Regions from separate parts of the Homo sapiens genome. Here region 1 is linked to region 2. Evidence: fine-mapped expression QTL. A gene starts in region 2. The other region holds a variant in brackets. All regions are shown on one strand. Distances are from middle to middle. Region 1 overlaps LRRC8A (leucine rich repeat containing 8 VRAC subunit A). Region 2 holds the start of LRRC8A (leucine rich repeat containing 8 VRAC subunit A).

What was found. PIP is the estimated chance that this variant, and not a neighbour inherited with it, causes the effect.
Region 1: its variant is the best candidate, but not a certain one, in a credible set for the expression of LRRC8A in tibial nerve (GTEx, PIP 0.50).

What each region holds. Positions count from the first base shown.
Region 1 is chr9:128,903,120-128,912,611 of GRCh38, forward strand. LRRC8A (leucine rich repeat containing 8 VRAC subunit A) reads left to right here. Exons shown (of 4, transcript NM_019594.4): 3 at 4,038-6,202. The coding sequence starts at 4,046. LOC101929291 (a long non-coding RNA gene) reads right to left here. Exons shown (of 4, transcript XR_007061808.1): 3 at 6,925-7,119; 4 at 6,196-6,821. Among named protein-coding and RNA genes, the nearest start is that of PHYHD1, 13 kb to the right of the region's middle. RefSeq lists a silencer at 622-794 and an enhancer at 6,623-7,406. The variant TGC/T (reference allele first, on the strand shown) is at 3,179.
Region 2 is chr9:128,876,700-128,886,364 of GRCh38, forward strand. It overlaps LRRC8A (leucine rich repeat containing 8 VRAC subunit A), which reads left to right and starts at 5,434. Exons shown (of 4, transcript NM_019594.4): 1 at 5,434-5,551; 2 at 9,316-9,422. KYAT1-SPOUT1 (KYAT1-SPOUT1 readthrough) reads right to left here and starts at 5,251. Exons shown (of 25, transcript NR_182311.1): 1 at 5,198-5,251. It overlaps KYAT1 (kynurenine aminotransferase 1), which reads right to left and starts at 5,251. Exons shown (of 13, transcript NM_004059.5): 1 at 5,198-5,251. RefSeq lists enhancers at 5,321-5,470, 8,747-9,509 and a silencer at 5,501-5,780.

The DNA of each region.
Region 1 (9,492 bases), 26 kb after region 2:
TGATGTCACCTTCCTGAGCCTTAGCACCCCCATCTCTGGGATGGGGCTATAGAGGCCTGGCCTCTTGGGCATCAAGGATGACCCTAGGAGGGCCTGCAGGGGAGGCCTGCCTGGTGCCTGGCACACTTCCAGGCCCTCAGCACTGGCTGTGGCCATCATCACCCTTGCTGAGTGCCCCATTCCACCTGCCTCACATGGGGTCCTGCTCTGCCTTCCTCCTGTCCTCCCCATCCAGCATAGCCTAGAAAGATTGGGGCTGGGGAGTGTTTGGCATTTGCAGAGAGGTGCTGTTCTTTTTTTTTTTTTTTTTTGAGTCGGCACCTCGCTCTGTCACCCAGGCTGGAGTGCAGTGGCGTGATCTCGGCTCACTGCAAGCTCCACTTCCCGGGTTCACGCCATTCTCCTGCCTCAGCCTTCCAAGCAGCTGGGACTACAGGCGCCTGCCACTATGCCCGGCTAATTTTTTTGTATTTTTAGTAGAGACGGAGTTTCACCTTGTTAGCCAGGATGGTCTCGATCTCCTGACCTCGTGATCCGCCCGCCTTGGCCTCCCAAAGTGCTGGGATTACAGGCGTGAGCCTCTGTGCCTGGCCCGAGAAGTGCTGTTCTTAAAGAGTTCCTACCTAGGCCGGGCACGGTGGCTCACGCCTGTAATCCCAGAACTTTGGGAGGCCAAGGCAGGTGGATTGGTTGAGGCCAGGAATTCAAGACCAGCCCGGCCAACATGGCAAAACACCGTCTCTACTAAAAATACAAAAATTAGCTGGATGTGGTGGCGGGCGTCTGTAATCCCAGCCACTTGGGAGATTGAAACATGAGAATCACTTAAACCCAGGAGGCAGAGGTTGCAGTGAGTCAGGATCATGCCACTGCACCCCAGCCTGGGTGACAGAGTGAGACTGTCTCAAAAAGGGAAAAAAAAAAAGTTTGTTACTATTCTGGTTATTAACATTATCAGTAATCAAAGAAAGGTGGCCCATCATCTGGGCACCCCTGTTCCTCTCCTAAGAGAGACAGACACATTTGACACAGGCATTTAAAACTTGGTTTAGATAAAAATCTAGGTTCTGGGTTACAGTGTAAAGTAAAAATTGAATGTAAAGTAAAAGCACAATTTGGCCAGGCATGGTGACTCACACCTATAATCCCAGCACTGTGGGAGGCCGTGGCAGGTGGATCACCTCAGGTCAGGAGTTCGAGACCAGCCTGGCCAACGTGGCGAAATTCCGTTTCTACTAAAAATACAAAAATTAGCTGGGCGTGGTAGCGTGTGCCTGTAATCCAGCTGCTTGGGAGGCAGAGGCAGGAGAATCATGTGAACCCAGGAGGCGGAGGCTGTGGTGAGCTGAGATTGTGCCACTGCACTCCAGCCTGGGTGACAGAGCAATACTCTGTCTCTAAATAAATAAATAAATAAAAGCACAATTTATTCTAATACACAGAAAGGGCTGGGTGCAGTGCCTCACTCCTGTAATGCCAACACTTTGGGAGGCTAAGGCCAGAGGATTGCTTGAGGCCAGGAGTTTGAAACCAACTTGGCCAACATAGTGAGATCCTGTCTCTACAAAAAATTTTAAAAATTAGCCGGGCATGGGCCAGGTATGGTGGTTCACACCTGTAATCCCAGTACTTTGGGAGGCCAAGGCGGGCGGATCACAAGGTCAGGAGAACGAGACCATCCTGGCTAACACGGTGAAACCCCGTCTCTACTAAAAATACAAAAAAAAATTAGCCGGGTGTGGTGGGCGGGTGCCTGTAGTCCCAGCTACTTGGAAGGCTGAGGCAGGAGAATGGCGTGAATCTGGGAGGCGGAGCTTGCAGTGAGCCAAGATCGCACCACTGCACTCCAGCCTAGGCAACAGAGCGAGACTCCGTCTCAAAAAAAAAAAAAAAAAAAAAAAAAATTAGCCAGGCATGGTGGCACACACCTGTAGCCCCAGCTACCTGGGGGAGGCTAAGGTAGGAGGATTGCTTGACCAGGAGGTTGAGGCTGCAGTGAGCCATGATCACGCCACCGCACTCTAGTTTGGGCAACAGAGCAAGATCCAATCTCTTACAAGAAAAATTATAAAATTATAAAATACACAGAAAGGACTGGAAGGTTATTATTCAGTGAAAAGTTAACAGTGTGTAACCCTGGTGGGGATTGTAAAGCGGATTCTTCTTTTTTTGCTGCTACGCTTTTTTACAATTTTCCGTATGTTCTCCAGGGAACATCTAGTACCTTATCCCTCCGTGACAGCCATACGTCTTTCATTGTAAGAGCAACCAGCCTTGGCCGTGTGACCACGAATGGCCACAGAGAGGCATTCTCACAGAGATCTTGCTGCGTGCCTCCTGTGTAGCACAGTCTGGGTTTCCTAATGTGGCTTCTCAGCCAGTGTTTCCCAAGCTTGGCCAATCATTAGAGTCACCAAAGTTATGTGTTAAAAATCAGGTTCCCAGCCAGGCACGGTGGCTCACTCCTGTAATCCCAGCACTTTGGGAGGCTGAGACGGGCAGATCAGGAGGTAAAGGGATCGAGACCATCCTGGTCAACATCGTGAAACCTTGTCTCTACTAAAAAACACAAAAATTACCTGGGCATGGTGGTGCAGGCCTGTAGTCCCAGCTACTCGGGAGGCTGAGGCAGGAGAATCACTTGAACCCTGGAGGCAGAGGTTGCAGTGAGCCGAAATGATGCCACTGCACTCCAGCCTGGCGACAGAGCAAGACTCCGTCTCAAAAAAAAAAGAAAAATCAGATTTCCAGCTTCTCGCCATAGTAGTCAAACTAGACTCTCTCTGGGAGAGCCTGCTGTTGCTGCTGTTTTTAATTCCTTTATACACACGCAACCAGAGATGATTTTACATTAAGGCCTCTCTGTGATCACCCAGTTTGTGAGGGAGGAGAGCCTTATTCTTAATCCCCTCTCTTGAGGCCGCTCCCCTAGGAGCCTGTCATTAAGACCCACTATGTGACCTTTGGTCTTCCGAGTGTTCCCAGAATCTTGTACACACATAACTATACACACATGTGGAATTTTGTTGTTGAAGCAGGGTCTCTGTCACCCAGGCTGGAGTACAGCGACGGGGTCATAGCTCACTGCAGCTTCAACCTCCTGGACTCAAGCGATCCTCCCACTTCATCCTCCCAAAATGCTGGGATTACAGGCTAGGATTACAGGCGTGAGCCACCA[TGC/T]CAGCCCCCATGTGGAATTTTTTTTTTTTTTTTTTTTTTTGAGTTGGAGTTTCACTCTTGTCGCCCAGGCTGGAGTGCAATGGCACAATCTCAGCTCACTGCAACCTCCACCTCCCGGGTTCAAGTGATTCTCCTGTCTCAGCCTCCCGAATAGCTGGGATTACAGGCACCCGCCACTACGCCAGGCTAATTTTTGTATTTTTAGTAGAGACCGAGTTTCACCATGTTGGCCAGGCTGGTCTTGAACTTCTGACTTCAGGTGATCCACCCACCTCGGCCTCCCAAAGTGCTGGGATTACAGACGTGAACCACGTGGAATTTTTAAACCTTGCTCTTTGTTTTATGGAAGTGAGTTCATGTTGTGCCCCCTCTGCATGTTGCTTTCTTTCCTCATATTTTGCGGGAATCCCTCCAGCCCTTTGCTGCAGCTTTACAGCAGCTGGTTCCCAGTGAACTGGGAGTTTTAAATGTGTCCCTCTGGTCAATCTGTTCATTAAATAGGTGGACTTTAGAAAGGAGTTCCCGATTGCTCTTACTGGAATGCAAGGGATGGAGCAGAGAACCCTGAGGCTGCACTGGGGATCTGTCTAATCTCACTGTGCTCAGTCTTCCTGTGTATTAAATGGGGAGCCTGCCTGCCTCCCCCAGGGTGGTTTCCCAGCCAAGTGGCCACATGCTTTCTGCAGAAGGGCTGATAAGTGGGCTGCCCCGTGGAGTAGGCAGGCTTTGGCTCCCAGCTAGATTTGAGGTGGAATTTTGGACAATGGAAGAATTTTCATTGTCTTCTTCCCCTGACCCCTGGTCCTAGGAAAGCCAGGCCACCCTGTGCTAACCCCCCTCCTATGGCTCCCTTTTAGGTTGAACCATGATTCCGGTGACAGAGCTCCGCTACTTTGCGGACACGCAGCCAGCATACCGGATCCTGAAGCCGTGGTGGGATGTGTTCACAGACTACATCTCTATCGTCATGCTGATGATTGCCGTCTTCGGGGGGACGCTGCAGGTCACCCAAGACAAGATGATCTGCCTGCCTTGTAAGTGGGTCACCAAGGACTCCTGCAATGATTCGTTCCGGGGCTGGGCAGCCCCTGGCCCGGAGCCCACCTACCCCAACTCCACCATTCTGCCGACCCCTGACACGGGCCCCACAGGCATCAAGTATGACCTGGACCGGCACCAGTACAACTACGTGGACGCTGTGTGCTATGAGAACCGACTGCACTGGTTTGCCAAGTACTTCCCCTACCTGGTGCTTCTGCACACGCTCATCTTCCTGGCCTGCAGCAACTTCTGGTTCAAATTCCCGCGCACCAGCTCGAAGCTGGAGCACTTTGTGTCTATCCTGCTGAAGTGCTTCGACTCGCCCTGGACCACGAGGGCCCTGTCGGAGACAGTGGTGGAGGAGAGCGACCCCAAGCCGGCCTTCAGCAAGATGAATGGGTCCATGGACAAAAAGTCATCGACCGTCAGTGAGGACGTGGAGGCCACCGTGCCCATGCTGCAGCGGACCAAGTCACGGATCGAGCAGGGTATCGTGGACCGCTCAGAGACGGGCGTGCTGGACAAGAAGGAGGGGGAGCAAGCCAAGGCGCTGTTTGAGAAGGTGAAGAAGTTCCGGACCCATGTGGAGGAGGGGGACATTGTGTACCGCCTCTACATGCGGCAGACCATCATCAAGGTGATCAAGTTCATCCTCATCATCTGCTACACCGTCTACTACGTGCACAACATCAAGTTCGACGTGGACTGCACCGTGGACATTGAGAGCCTGACGGGCTACCGCACCTACCGCTGTGCCCACCCCCTGGCCACACTCTTCAAGATCCTGGCGTCCTTCTACATCAGCCTAGTCATCTTCTACGGCCTCATCTGCATGTATACACTGTGGTGGATGCTACGGCGCTCCCTCAAGAAGTACTCGTTTGAGTCGATCCGTGAGGAGAGCAGCTACAGCGACATCCCCGACGTCAAGAACGACTTCGCCTTCATGCTGCACCTCATTGACCAATACGACCCGCTCTACTCCAAGCGCTTCGCCGTCTTCCTGTCGGAGGTGAGTGAGAACAAGCTGCGGCAGCTGAACCTCAACAACGAGTGGACGCTGGACAAGCTCCGGCAGCGGCTCACCAAGAACGCGCAGGACAAGCTGGAGCTGCACCTGTTCATGCTCAGTGGCATCCCTGACACTGTGTTTGACCTGGTGGAGCTGGAGGTCCTCAAGCTGGAGCTGATCCCCGACGTGACCATCCCGCCCAGCATTGCCCAGCTCACGGGCCTCAAGGAGCTGTGGCTCTACCACACAGCGGCCAAGATTGAAGCGCCCGCGCTGGCCTTCCTGCGTGAGAACCTGCGGGCGCTGCACATCAAGTTCACCGACATCAAGGAGATCCCGCTGTGGATCTATAGCCTGAAGACACTGGAGGAGCTGCACCTGACGGGCAACCTGAGCGCGGAGAACAACCGCTACATCGTCATCGACGGGCTGCGGGAGCTCAAACGCCTCAAGGTGCTGCGGCTCAAGAGCAACCTAAGCAAGCTGCCACAGGTGGTCACAGATGTGGGCGTGCACCTGCAGAAGCTGTCCATCAACAATGAGGGCACCAAGCTCATCGTCCTCAACAGCCTCAAGAAGATGGCGAACCTGACTGAGCTGGAGCTGATCCGCTGTGACCTGGAGCGCATCCCCCACTCCATCTTCAGCCTCCACAACCTGCAGGAGATTGACCTCAAGGACAACAACCTCAAGACCATCGAGGAGATCATCAGCTTCCAGCACCTGCACCGCCTCACCTGCCTTAAGCTGTGGTACAACCACATCGCCTACATCCCCATCCAGATCGGCAACCTCACCAACCTGGAGCGCCTCTACCTGAACCGCAACAAGATCGAGAAGATCCCCACCCAGCTCTTCTACTGCCGCAAGCTGCGCTACCTGGACCTCAGCCACAACAACCTGACCTTCCTCCCTGCCGACATCGGCCTCCTGCAGAACCTCCAGAACCTAGCCATCACGGCCAACCGGGTGAGTGGCCCGGCCACAGCTCTGCGTGTGGGCTGGCGGGTGGCCTGGCCAGGGCTTGTGGTGGGGCACTCGGCAGGCTCAGTGTCCTGGGACCGTCGATGCCCCTGAGTGTGGAGTCCTCACCTGGGGTTTACAGAACCATCCAGGATAGAAGCTCTGTTCAAGAGACAGACTCCTTGGGCCCCATCCCAGGCCTGCTGAATCCGAATCTCTGGGCCCCGGGCCTGTCTTTGCTCCAAAATGTTGCAGTTCTCCTGCCTGGAGAGACTGCATGGCCAGGCAAGGTCTGTCCCCCAAGGTGACCTTGAGCCGGGTTCCTCTTCAGCAGGGATGTGCTTGGGCAGGAGGTCCAAACCCGGGGGTTCTCTCGCAAAGCCGGGTGGTGGGAGTCAAGACTTAGCCTGGAGTTTGTGTCTTCCTCAGCTTGTTCCCAGTCGGACTTGGAGGCAAGGAGCCAATCCGGGTCCACCCAGGACAGAAACTGTGTGGGTGGCCAGTGCTGGCTGAGGGGAAGCCTTGGATGGTCTCTGCAGCTCCCACACACCTTTCTCCACTGCATTTGGTGGTGTCAGAGGCAGAGTTGGGCCTAGATGGGGCTAGTTTGTTTCTGCCTGCCCTTCTGAAAAGGAAATTGTGCAAATCATTGTCACTGGGAGTTTGGGAGGCCACACCTTCGACATACTTTCAAGACTGTTGGTGGTCTGTGGGTGCCAGTCTCTTACCTGGCTGGGGAAGCCCCCATCCAAGGGCCCCTTGGTGGAGGCAGGCAGTGTGGATGGAGGGCTGGGTACTCCTGTGGCTCTGTGGTCTGGCCTCCGAAATGGAAACAAAGCCACTGCCATTGTGGGGAACGTCCCTCTTCCACCCGTCCTGGGGACCTGCAGGTTTTCCTGGGCCTCACATCCAGGTGGAGATTCCTGTAGTGAGACATGTGGTGGAGGAAGCCTGAGGCCAGGCGCTGGGAGACAAGGGAGAGCCCAGCCAGCCACCCTTCTGCCCCCGACACAGCAGCAGCTGTCGTGCCGGGCCCCTGTGAACTTCACTAGGGATGCCACCAGGTTCAGGAGGCTGAAGAAGAGACTCGGAGTTGACCAGGCCCAGTGGGTCAAACCTGTAATCCGAGCACTTAGGGAAGCCAAGGTGGGGCGGTCACTTGAGCTCAGGAGTTCGAGACCAGCCTGGGCAACATAGGGAAACCCCATCTCTACCAAAAATACAGAAATGATCCAGGCATGGTGGCATGTGCCTGTAGTCCCAGCTATTTGGGAGGCTGAGGCAGGATCGCTTCAGCCTAGGAGTTCAAGACTGCAGTGAGCTATGGTTGTACCACTGTACTTCAGCCTGGGCAATAGAGTGAGACCCAGTCTCAAAGTAAAATGAAGAGCCCTGGAGCCGGCCATTGAAACATGGGGTTTATTTGGGGGAACTTACTTACAGGGTGGTCCAGCAGCAGTGAGCCAAATAGGAAAACCACTCCTGCTTATAAAAAGCGTGCAGCTCATAGAGCATTTTCACTAAGCACCCTCCCCTCTGCAGCCTCCGTGTGGCAACCCGCGTTTCTTAGTTCGGTTGTTGCTGTTGGGTGCATCTGCCATGCAGCAGCCCCACGGTGCAGTCCCTGTTGGTTTCGTGGGCACCTGCTCTGTGTTCGCCCTGTGCCAGGCATGATGCACCTGTCCTCCTTCCACCAACCTGCTGAGTCCTCCCAACAGGGTCTGTCTATAGCATCCTCAGGCACGGAGGGAGGTGGCCCCTGGAATGCCCGGTCTGTCTATAGTATCCTCAGGCACGGAGGGAGGTGGCCCCTGGAATGCCCTGTCTGTCCTCCTGGGCCCCAGGACAGGACACACCTTCTCCAGCATCACTCAGACTAGATGCTTCAGGCCCTCCAGATGCCTGCTGGCTTGGAAGCCTTCCTCCCCTCTTCCCCAGGGCTCCCTTACTGCAGAGCAACCTGCAACCCACATGTATCAGGGATTTTGACAAGTCCTTATCTCCGGCCACCCCATATTATGACTTGAGCACAGTGGGAGAGTGGACCAGGGCAGGGTTTTCTCTTGTAGTTTCGGGACAGGCCCACTGAATAGGAAAACTGGAGTCCCCTGGGGAGAAGCCACATTTGGGAAGCACAGAACAAACCCAGCCCTTCTTTAATCTGTGGAGGGGGAGACCCTGTGGCTTCCCCATAGCACAGTGCTGCCCTTGATAAGCTGGGACTTCCTCACAGCTCCTGCCATTCCTGCCCTGTCCCGGGTGCTGTGCTGGGGCTGTCCTCCTGGTTGGGGGAGGGTTCAAGCCTCCAGCCTGGCTCCCCATCCTGTCCCCCACCCCCAGCTCCTCCCGCCAAGCTTGCCTGTTAGTGTCATGCCTGCTGGCTGAGGTCACCCCTCAGGAAAGGAGCTGGCGGCAAGCACGCTGTCCCAGAGGAAGGAGACCCTCTGGACACCCTGTTTAGCACATGGCTTAATCACATCCTGTCCCCACCCCCTGGAACACCAGAGCCTTAATAGGGAAAACAGTTCACTTGGGCCAACCCCAGGCAGGCCCCTCATTCTGAGTGGGAGGCCTGAGCCCCTCTTCCTCCTCACTCGGGCTTGATGGCTCCTTCTCAGCCACCTTGGCCAGTGGTGACCAGGAGGGGTGGGCGTGGCCTGCCCACGCCCTTGCGTGCTGTTTCTCCAGATTTATACTCTTGCTAATGAAAGCCTTGACAAGACAGTATTCATTCGTTCACTCGTTTACTGATGTGTGCAAATTGTTATGTTTTGTTTGTTTGTTTTTTTGGTAGAGACAGGGTCTCACTGTGTTTTCTAGGCTGGTCTTTAAACTCCTGGCCTCAAAGCCTCCCACCTTGGCCGCCCAAAGTGCTGGTATTACAGGCATGAGCCACTTCGCCTGGCCTTTGTGCAGATGTTTTTTGAGCACTTCTAGAATCCAGCTATGGAGCAAGGCGCCGGGGACATGGGGATGAAGAAGGCCAAGTAACGAGGCAGTTAGCACAGTGCGTAGGCGCTCTGCTGGAGCACCAGGTCCCTGGGAACACAGAGGAACAGGCCCCTGAAGAACGAGGAGGAGGAAGCCAGGTGGAGGGGAAAGGGACAGTCCAGGAGGTTCTGGTGGGGAGGAGCAGTGAGATGGGCTGCCCAGGAATGTGGGCATCCTGGAGAGCAGAGGTGGGGCTATGGGGGGGGGTGTGGATGGCAGGGGGGTCCTGTCCTACACCTCAGTTTCAATTGTCTCTTCATTTGTTTAACAGCCGATCCCTTGCCAGCCCATAGGCTCTGATGACT
Region 2 (9,665 bases):
TGAGCCACGGCACCCGGCCTTTTTTTTTTTTTTTTCTTGAGATAGAGCCTCTCTCTTCACTCTGTCACCCAGGCTGGAGTGCAGTGGCACAATCTTGGCTCACTGCAACCCCCACCTGCCGGGTTCAAGTGATTCTCCTGCCTCAGCCTCCCAAGTAGCCGGGATTACAGGTGCACGCCACCACGCCCAGCTAATTTATTTTTATTTTTATTTTTTTGAGATGGAGTCTCACTCTTTCACCCAGGCTGGAGTGTAATGGCACGATCTCGGCTCACTGCAACCTCTGCCTCCCGGGTTCAAGTGATTCTCCCACCTCAGCCTCCCGAGTAGCTGGGATTACAGGCACCCACCATCATGCTCGGCTAATTTTTGTATTTTTGTAGAGATGGGGTTTCACCATGTTGGCCAGGCTGGTCTTGAACTTCTGGCCTCTGGTGATCTGCCTGCCTTGACCTCCCAAATTGCTGGAATTACAGGTGTGAACCACTGTGCCCAGCCACCCTTTGCTTTTGAATAAATGTTGCCCATCTTCACTCAAGCTGTTTCCCCTGCCTGGCATACCCTCCAATCCAAAATCCCTAGCAGGGCCTAGCCCCACCTGTACCTCCTCTCTGAAGCTTCTGTGTCCACCCAGGCCCTTTGCTGAACTCAGAAAGCACCTACCTGTGCCTGACCCTCTCCCCCAACCCCATGCTAAATTCTCTAATCCTCATCACAGCTGATTAGGATGGTATTATTTACTCTATTTTGCTCAAAAGGAGAACAAGGAAAACTCACTCAGCCTAGAGAGCTCCAGCTGTGATTCAAACCCTGGTTTGCCTATTTCCAAAGTCCAAATTCTGTCCCGTGAAATCTCCTCTCAGGCGGGTGCTAGGGCTGACAGGAGACCACCAGCCCCTTGGGGACAGGAGCCATGTCTTGTCCAACTTCACCTTGCATGGCTGCTTACAAGGGCAGGCGAGGTGACCATGCCTTCCCAGGGTGGCCCCACGTCACATCACTCAAGTCAATTATGACATTCGGTTTTGGAGCTTCTCAATAGGGGCACACTTAGAATTTGAGATGAGTCAGTTCTTCACTGGGGAGAGCTATCTGGAGCCTTGAAGGATGTTTAGCATCCCTGGGCTTAAAATGCCAGGAGACTCCCAGTTACTGAGACAACACACATCGTGGCACCTCTAGAGAAAGGGTACAGAACTGGGGATACCATGCCCAGGAAGACCAGTCTAGTGCATGAATAACCACAGAAGACCAAACCTTGGACTTGGATCAAATAGTCCCAGCTCCACCATAAACTAGCTATGGGACCTTGGTCATGCCAGGCCGCAGCCTCTTGGGGGCTCAGCTTCCTCATCTGTACAATGAAGGTGACAAGAATCCACAGAGAATATACTGTGGGTCCTGGCTCACAGCCACTTGTCAATGACAACAAGCTATTAACTTTTTTTTTTTTTTGAGACAGTCTTGCTCTATCGCCCAGGCTGGAGTGCAGTGGCACAATCTCGGCTCACTGCAACCTCTGCCTCCCAGTTTCAAGCGATTCTTGTACCTCAGCCTCCAGAGTAGCTGGGACCACAGGCACGTGCCACCACACCCAGCTAATTTTTGTATTTTTGATAGAGATGGGGTTTTACCACGTTGCCCAGGTTGGTCTCGAACTCCTGAGCTCAAGCGATAGTCCCACCTCAGCCTTCCAAATTACTGGGATTATAGGCATGAACCACCACACCCAGTCAACAAGCTATTAACATTTAAACCTACCAGGCTTTCCATAAAATTAGTAACCAAGCAAAATGAAAAATCTCTTATTATATAATGAATCCAAATTTTTTTTGATAGAAAAAAAACAGAATTCCCTGAAGACAAATGTTTGGTGACAATTTGTTGAGCCAATGTTTTCCTGGAGAGAACAGCCTGTCTGAGGAGATCTAACAATTGCGTCACTCAGACACAGTCCCCCTGGGCTTAGGAATTGGCAGAGGAGAGAGAAATGACTTCTGGAGTCCAGACGGCAGGTTTACAGGCTGGAGGGGTTGGTGGAAGACCTGAGTGACACAAACAGTAGGTATCTCACCACTTATTCCTCCTGGCACAGGACCCAGATTCAAAAACCACAATCTCACTCCCATACATTAAAGGAACACACAACAGATAGGCAGATAGCCTCGCGGGAGCCTTGGAGGAGGTGGCATCAGCTTTACAGGTGGGGAAACTGAGGCTTAGAGAGGGGAAATGACTTACTCGAAGTCCCAGAAAAGCACCAGGAGGCCCCCAGCTGCAAGCTGGGGAATGAGGGCATAGGATGAGCATTTTAAAAATTATGCCGGGAGGCCGGGCGCGGTGGCTCACGCCTGTAATCCCAGCACTTTGGGAGGCCGAGGTGGGCGGATCACAAGGTCAGGAGATAGAGACCATCCTGGCTAACACGGTGAAACCCCGTCTCTACTAAAAATACAAAAAATTAGCCAGGCGTGGTGGCGGGTGCCTGTAGTCCCAGCTACTTGGGAGGCTGAGGCAGGAGAATGGAGTGAACCCGGGAGGTGGAGCTTGCAGTGAGCCGAGATTGCACCACTGCACTCCAGCCTGGGCGACAGAGTGAGACTCCGTCTCAAAAAAAAAAAAAGGAATTATGCAGGGAACTGGCAGTGCCATCCAGGAGTGGGATGTGGCCCCAGGTCTGTTCTGGCAGGAGTTACAGTGACTGCCTCATGGCTGTGAAGGCTCCTGCATTCCTTTATCGCCCCCACCTGGATTATAAAATCAGGCGCCCTACTCTTTGGAGCTTGGAGAGGTTAGTGTGGCGTTCTGGTGGTTGGCACCTAATGGAGGCATTCTCCGGGAGGAAAGATTCCTGCTGAAGCCAGACTGAATGGGTCTAACTTGTATATTCTCCAATCCTGTTGGTCACCCTCAGTTTCTTAGTGGACACCAAGGCCAAGTCCAGGGTAGGAGCCCATCTCTCCTTGAGTCTCCAGCCTCATCATTTCTCCTTCTGGACATCCTAGTTTCCAGTCACATTGAAAGTCCCTTCCTTGGAGAAGCCCCTTCTGACTCCACCCAGGCTAAGCCACATGTCCCCTCCCAGGTGGTCCCAAGACCTGGGCTTCCGCCCTCAAAGTACTCAGCACGGGGGCGCTCAACTCCAAGGACAGGAACTATGTGCTTGACCTGTTCTCCACCAGATCCTCAGCCTCTGGCAGCTCACCCAGCACAGAGTAGGTCCCCCAGGCATTAGCACAGATGATCCTGGGAAGCTAAGGGAGAGGCCTGGGAGCCCAGCAGCCTTCCTAGGGAGGGAGGGAGACCTGTAGGAACCCCCTTCTGGCAACTTTCTTAATCTCTCTGTGCCTCACTTATCTGTAAAATGAGACTTATCTGCGTGTAAAATACAAAGTATAATACGTGGGAACATTCACTGTCTACAACTGTGGTTCTGGTTGTTCATTTTACAGGCGGGGACATGGAGGCCCACGGAGTACCTGGCAGGCCCACAGTCCACAGGTTGGAAAGAGGTGCCCAAGCCCTGGACTTTAAGCCTGGGCTCTGACCTTCAACGTTTGCTTTTCACACCACACATCATGTCAATAAATAGTTACTGGATGCCTGTTGTGTGCCAGGCCCCAAGACGGGTGTTGCGTGACTGACAACAGAAAAAGCATCTCAGTGGCGAGGGATAAGCTAGATCATGGGCATTAGTGTAAATCTCCCAGGGTTCAAATTCCAGCTTCTCCACTTCCTGGCTATGATTTTTTTTTTTTTTTAGACGGAGTCTTGCTCTGTTGCCCAGGCTGAAGTGCAGTGGCCCAATCTCAGCTCACTGCAAGCTCTGCCTCCCAGGTTCATGCCATTCTCCTGCCTCAGCCTCCCGAGTAGCTGGGACCACAGGCGCTCGCCACCACACCCGGCTAATTTTTTTGTATTTTTAGTAGAGACGGGGTTTCACCGTGTTAGCCAGGATGGTCTCGATCTACTGACCTCGTGATCCGCCCGCCTCAGCCTCCCAAAGTGCTGGGATTACAGGTGTGAACCACCGCGCCCGGCCCTGGCTATGATATTGCTAAGTTTCCTAACCTCTCTAAGGTTCTTTTCTCTTCTATTAAAAGGGAAAAATAAGACCTCCCAACAGAAGTGAAACTAGGCATTGGCTTAACACGTGATGGATGGGAGCCACGACTATCTTCATCATCTTATTTTTAATTATCTATCTGTGCACATGGTAGTAAATTTCTCGCCCTGGCCCAGGTACCCAAGACCCCAATTCTGTCGGAGACAACCGCAATTAACAACTTCTTGTGCATCTTATCAGACAGCTGGCGCGCACACCCGCAGATACGCCCACCCTCAGGCGTCCTTCTACGCAAAGATGGATAGCACCCATCAACGCTGTTTTTTCTTTTTTTAGACGGAGTCTCGCTCTGTCGCCCAGGCTGGAGTGCAGCGGCGCGATCTCGGCTCACTGCAAGCTCCACCTCCCGAGTTCATGCCATTCTCCTGCCTCAGCCTCCAGAGTAGCTGGGACTACAGGCGCCCACCACCACGCCCGGCTGATTTTTTTGTATTTTTAGTAGAGATGAGGTTTCACCAAGTTAGCCAGGATGGTCTCGATCTCCTGACCTCGTGATCCGCCCGCCTCGGCCTCCCAAAGTGCTGGGATTACAGACGTGAGCCACCGCAACCGGCCCAACGCTGTTTTTACTGTTGTTTCCTTTTTTAACCTAAGGTATCTTAGAAGTCACCCTACATTAGTGCATATTAAACATTGTTCGTCTTAATGGCTGCACAGTATTCCACTGTATGGATTATTTTTTAATTTGGTTGCCGGTACTGTTATCAGCCAGGGAATTTGCGAGGACCCAGCGGGATTTATGGAGCTGCAGAGTTGGAGTCTGGGGACCCAATTCCAACCCCAGATCTGTCCAGAATTCTGTTGTCTCGGGTATCATCTCCACCGGCGCGGTCGTGGGAGGGGGATTTGGGTGCAGACAGGACCAGCCCCAGTGTCCGAGCGAGAATCAGCGAGCAGCACGCGCAGTTGATTCCCGCGGGCGGCTCAATCATTCTGTGCAGCCACTCCGTTATACTTAGTAGCATCAAACTCATTAAGCACTCTAGCACAACCAAGCTCGGAACCGTTAGCCGACCCTCCCAGCCTCGGCACCTGACCTTGGGGAAGTGGCGCTCCGACACAGCTACTCACCCTCACCTGGGCCGCTTCACCCCTCGTTCCCAAGTACACCCCGTAGGTTGCAGCAGTCCCTGTCCCTTTAAGGGGGCCGAGCCCGGCTCCGCTACTTCCGCCCCGAAGCAGCAGGGCGCTAGCGCGGAGGCGAGAGCGGGAGAAAGCGCCGCTAGAATTCTCCTCATAAAGATGGCGACGCCCTGGCCGCCGCGTTCGCGCCCGGCGGTGACGTCACTTCCGGGGCGGAGGAGGCTGAGTGGTGCAGTGAGGGACAAACAAAAGGAGGCGCCGGAGCAGCGCTGCGGCCGGCGGCGGGACGGAGCGGCCGGGGCCTGGGGCTGCCTGCCGGGCGGCCGGGCGCGGCGAGCCCAGGTGAGTGGACGGGGTGGGGAAAGGGGCGCGAGCTGTCACCTCTCGAAACCCACTTACACACGCCCTCGGCCAGCTGCCCGGCCCGGGGCGCCCGGGGCATCTGGGGCTCTGTCTCCGGGCCGGCCCCCTGGGGACCTCCCGCGGTGTTCGGCCTACCTCTGGGCTCCCCAGTGCCCGGAGTCTCCGGGGCACCACCTTCTCGCCGGCTCCGCGGCGCGCGAGCCCCCTCCCAGGCACCCCTGTGCCTCCTTGTGCTTCAGAAACCAGGAGTTTCCGCCTCGGCTCCCCCATGTCCCCTTGTCATCCCCTGGGTCCCCCCAGATCCTCACCCCTCCACACACACTCTCCCGTTCCTAGAGGTTCCACCTCTGGGCTCTCTCCTTGCCATTTCTTTTTCAAAGATTTCCTTAGCTGTCTTCTCCTGAGTTCCTGGTCCCCTTCTCTTCCCTTGCACCCCTCCTTCCTATCGTTCCGATGGGGGCAGTGCCCTGACTTGGGGGCAGGATCCCCGGCTAGGCTCTTGGGGCCTTTCTGGGATGGGATATTTGGGAAGACCGGTCCGGAATCTAAGAACCCAGACCCTGTCCCAGTCCTGTGCATTCAGGTGGGCCCGAGGGCGAGGCGAGATCCAGTGAGGTCCAGGCCTGGTGCAGCCCTAGGTGAGCTGGATACCCAGCAAACTGAGCTCCCAGGCTGAAGGGGCATAGCTGGGGTCATGGAGTTCATGATGATTCTGCTGCTTTCGCTGACTGCTTCTTCCCCTTGATCTGGACCGGGGTGAACCGAGGTCTGCCGGTTCTCAGCTGTTGCGATTGTTGCCTTTTTTGGGAAGGAGGGATGGGTCGGGGGTTGTCTGGTAGCCGCCTCCTGATGGAGACTTGGCTGGAAGGGTGGGCGGTTCCTGGGTGAGCCACACTTCCACTGACTCCTCTTCCCCTGCCCTACCTCAGGAAGCCTTTTGAGAATGAGGTGTGGAGGGAGAGCACCTGGTAAGAGGAAGGGAACTGGGGGAGCCCGAAGTTCCCAAGGACCTCTTCCACCTCTTCTGTTAGTAGTACTCTTAACCCCTGCCAAACTGTATTCTGCCCTTTGGAGCAGACAACCTGGCAGACAGACAGGCTGTAAGAAGCGGGAGGAGATCGGCTGTTGCTGATACTTCCTGTGGAGGGGATGTGGGAGTGGGAGTTTGTTCAGAGAGACTGGGCAGTGCTGATTGCTCAGTCTCACTGGTGTTGCTTCCATGAAGGTCAAGTCTTCCTCTGGCTCATGAAGTGAGGCAAGGACAGATGACCTGTGCTGGAGGAGGCTGTTGTGGACATGCCAGGGATGAGTGACTGGGTGGCTGGTCTCTGCTTCCTTGTTTTCCTGGTCTCAGGGCTTTGGCATGGGGTCTGATGCCCTCTGCGTTCTAGGGACCATAGGGTACAGAGCAGGGGGTGCAGGGCCGGGCGTGGTGGCTCACGCCTGTAATCCCAGCACGTTGGGAGGCTGAAGCGGGCAGATCACGAGGTCAGGAGTTCGAGACCAGCCTGGCCAACATAGTGAAACCTTGTCTCTACTAAAAATACAAAAAATTAGCCAGGCATGGGGCTGCGCACCCGTAATCCCAGCTATTCGGGAGGCTGAGGCAGGAGAATTGCTTGAACCCAGCAGGCAGAGGTTGCAGTGAGCCAAGATCGCGCCATTGCACTCCAGCTTGGGCAAGAAGAGCAAAATTCCATCTCAAAAAAACAAAAAAAAAAACAGAGCGGGGGCACAGGAAATGTTCATGACTTCCCCCCAGAACTTGACTAGATGTGGTGGTTCTCCATCCCTTAGGCACACCCACCAGGAAGCCGTTTCCTTTGCAAACTCTTGAATGACCTTTCTGGACTGTAGGGAATCCTGGGGATCACTGCCGTGGGTCAGAACTCAGGGAAGTGGCCGGACCCTGGGTTGCTGCCTGGCTTGGCCTGGACCTTGCCTGTAGGAGTTGGAGGGAAATCAGCCTGGTTCCTGACTGCCTCGTCTTAGAGTAGAGCTGATTCCAGGTTTTCACATGGAGAAACTGAGGCACACACTGATGGGCCAAGACCTCTTGGAGATTCAGGTGGGATGGATGTGGGGCTCTTAGAGCCCAGCACAGTGTCTCTCCATGCCTTGACTCATTCATTCATTCATTCATTCATTCAGCCATTCTTTAGAAAGTGCCTGTCTTGGGCCTGGGATGGCTGGGAAAACATCCCTGGCCTCCTGAGAGCTGCAGTCTGGGAGGACAGGCAAACCAGAAGACACATAAGTTCTGATATACTGTGGCCACCATATTAATAGAAATATTACAGAGGCAGCCCAGAGGAAGAAGGAATTAGCTCTGGGTGGTTATGTAGGGGGTGGTCAGGGTATGCTTTCTGGAAGAGGAGGGACTAGAATAATTAGTGACAGGGAGTCCAGGGGCCCAAGTTCTGGACCTGGCTCTGCCATGGGCAGGTGATTGGACCACCCAGCCTCAGTGGGTGCCCCATCCTTGACAAGGAGGGTAGAGTGAGGTAGAGGTTGGCTTGGATGGCCTCCGTGCCTATATAGCTGTAGGTACTTTACTGCCTAGTCACCACCACCCCGTATGGAATTGCAGGGTTATTGACCTACCTCCCATGACGGCGGAGACCATCTTCCATGTCTGCCCTCCCAGCACAGGGCCTGGAACTTAGTCAATATAGTAAATACCCAGTGGTAGAAATGATGGAAAAACAGCCATCCCTCCTAGATCAGTCCAGGTGTCTTTGTCTACCCCCGCCCTCCTCCTTCCTGGGTAACTCCTGCTGATCCTTTGGCTCTCTCTGGTGGCTGGGCCACTCTCCCAGCTCCTGGCTCCCCGAAACCCGTGTCGTAGTGATCACAGCTTTCCCTACCCTGCCACTCCCATGCACAGTTCTGCACAGTGTCTGGCGCATATGGAGTAGATGCTCACCAGAGGCTGGTTGACTGTCGGAGATGATGGGTGGATTTGGTGTTTAAGTTGGAGTCTGGGCACTGGCTGGTCTCTGCCTGACCCAGCCACCCCACTGTGGCTCATCTCTTGCCACTTCCCCTCTCTGGCTCTGGATCTCGCCATGCCGAGCCCGCAAGCCTTCTCCAGATGCCATGTACTCTCTCCTCCAGGTAAACATGTGCTGTTCCTCCTGCCTGGAATGCTCTTTTTCCAGCTCCTACTCTTAGGAGTCAACTCAGACAACTCCTCCTCCAGAAAGCCTTCCCTGACCCCACTAGTCTGGGTCTAGTGCTTCTCCTGGCTCCCCCGCAGCAGAGCTCTGAGCTCTCAGACCGTCGCTACTGACTTGGCACCTCCTCAGTAGACCAGGTTCTGGAGGGAGGTGCTCTGTCAGAACCTCTTTTGTCTGCCAGGCGCGGTGGCTCATGCCTGTAATCCCAATACTTTGGGAGGCCGAGGCGGGCAGATCCCTGGAGGTTAGGAGTTTGAGAGCAGCCTGGCTAACATGGGGAAACGCTGTCTCTACTAAAAATACAAAAAATTAGCCAGGCTTGGTGGTGCGCACCTGAAATCCCATCTACTCGAGAGGCTGAGGCAGGAGAATCACTTGAATGCGGGAGGCGGAGGTTGCAGTGAACCGAGATTGCACCACTATACAAAAAAAACCTCTTTTGTCACCCCAGAGCCCAGCCAAGGGCCTGCTACCAAGCAGGCTCTCAGGAAGTGCTGGCGGTGTGGCAGGTAACTGCGACAGTCACACATGTGCCTGCTGACGGCAGCTCTCGCTTCCTTGTAGGGAGGCAGCGTCCATGGAGCAAAAGGAATGCCAGGATCCTGCACAGGCAGACGCGGGCCAGCCTCAGCACCGACAGCCGACGCGCAGATAGCAGAGCCATCCTTGGGGTAAGGACTGGGCCCCTCTCCTTCTCAGCCAGCTCCAGCTCCAGTCAAGTGCCCTTCCCAGCCTGGGGAGCAAAGGGTAGCATCTCCATCCCCACAGTCCTTTGCTTTTCTTGCTGTAGGTCCAGGGTAGAGTGGCAGACAGCAGAATTACTCTCTTCCTCCTTCTCCCGCTGAGTAATGTGTGCTTGCCGCACTCATTGAATGCTGAGTTGTTTCATTGCAAACCTCTGTTTTTTCTCCTTC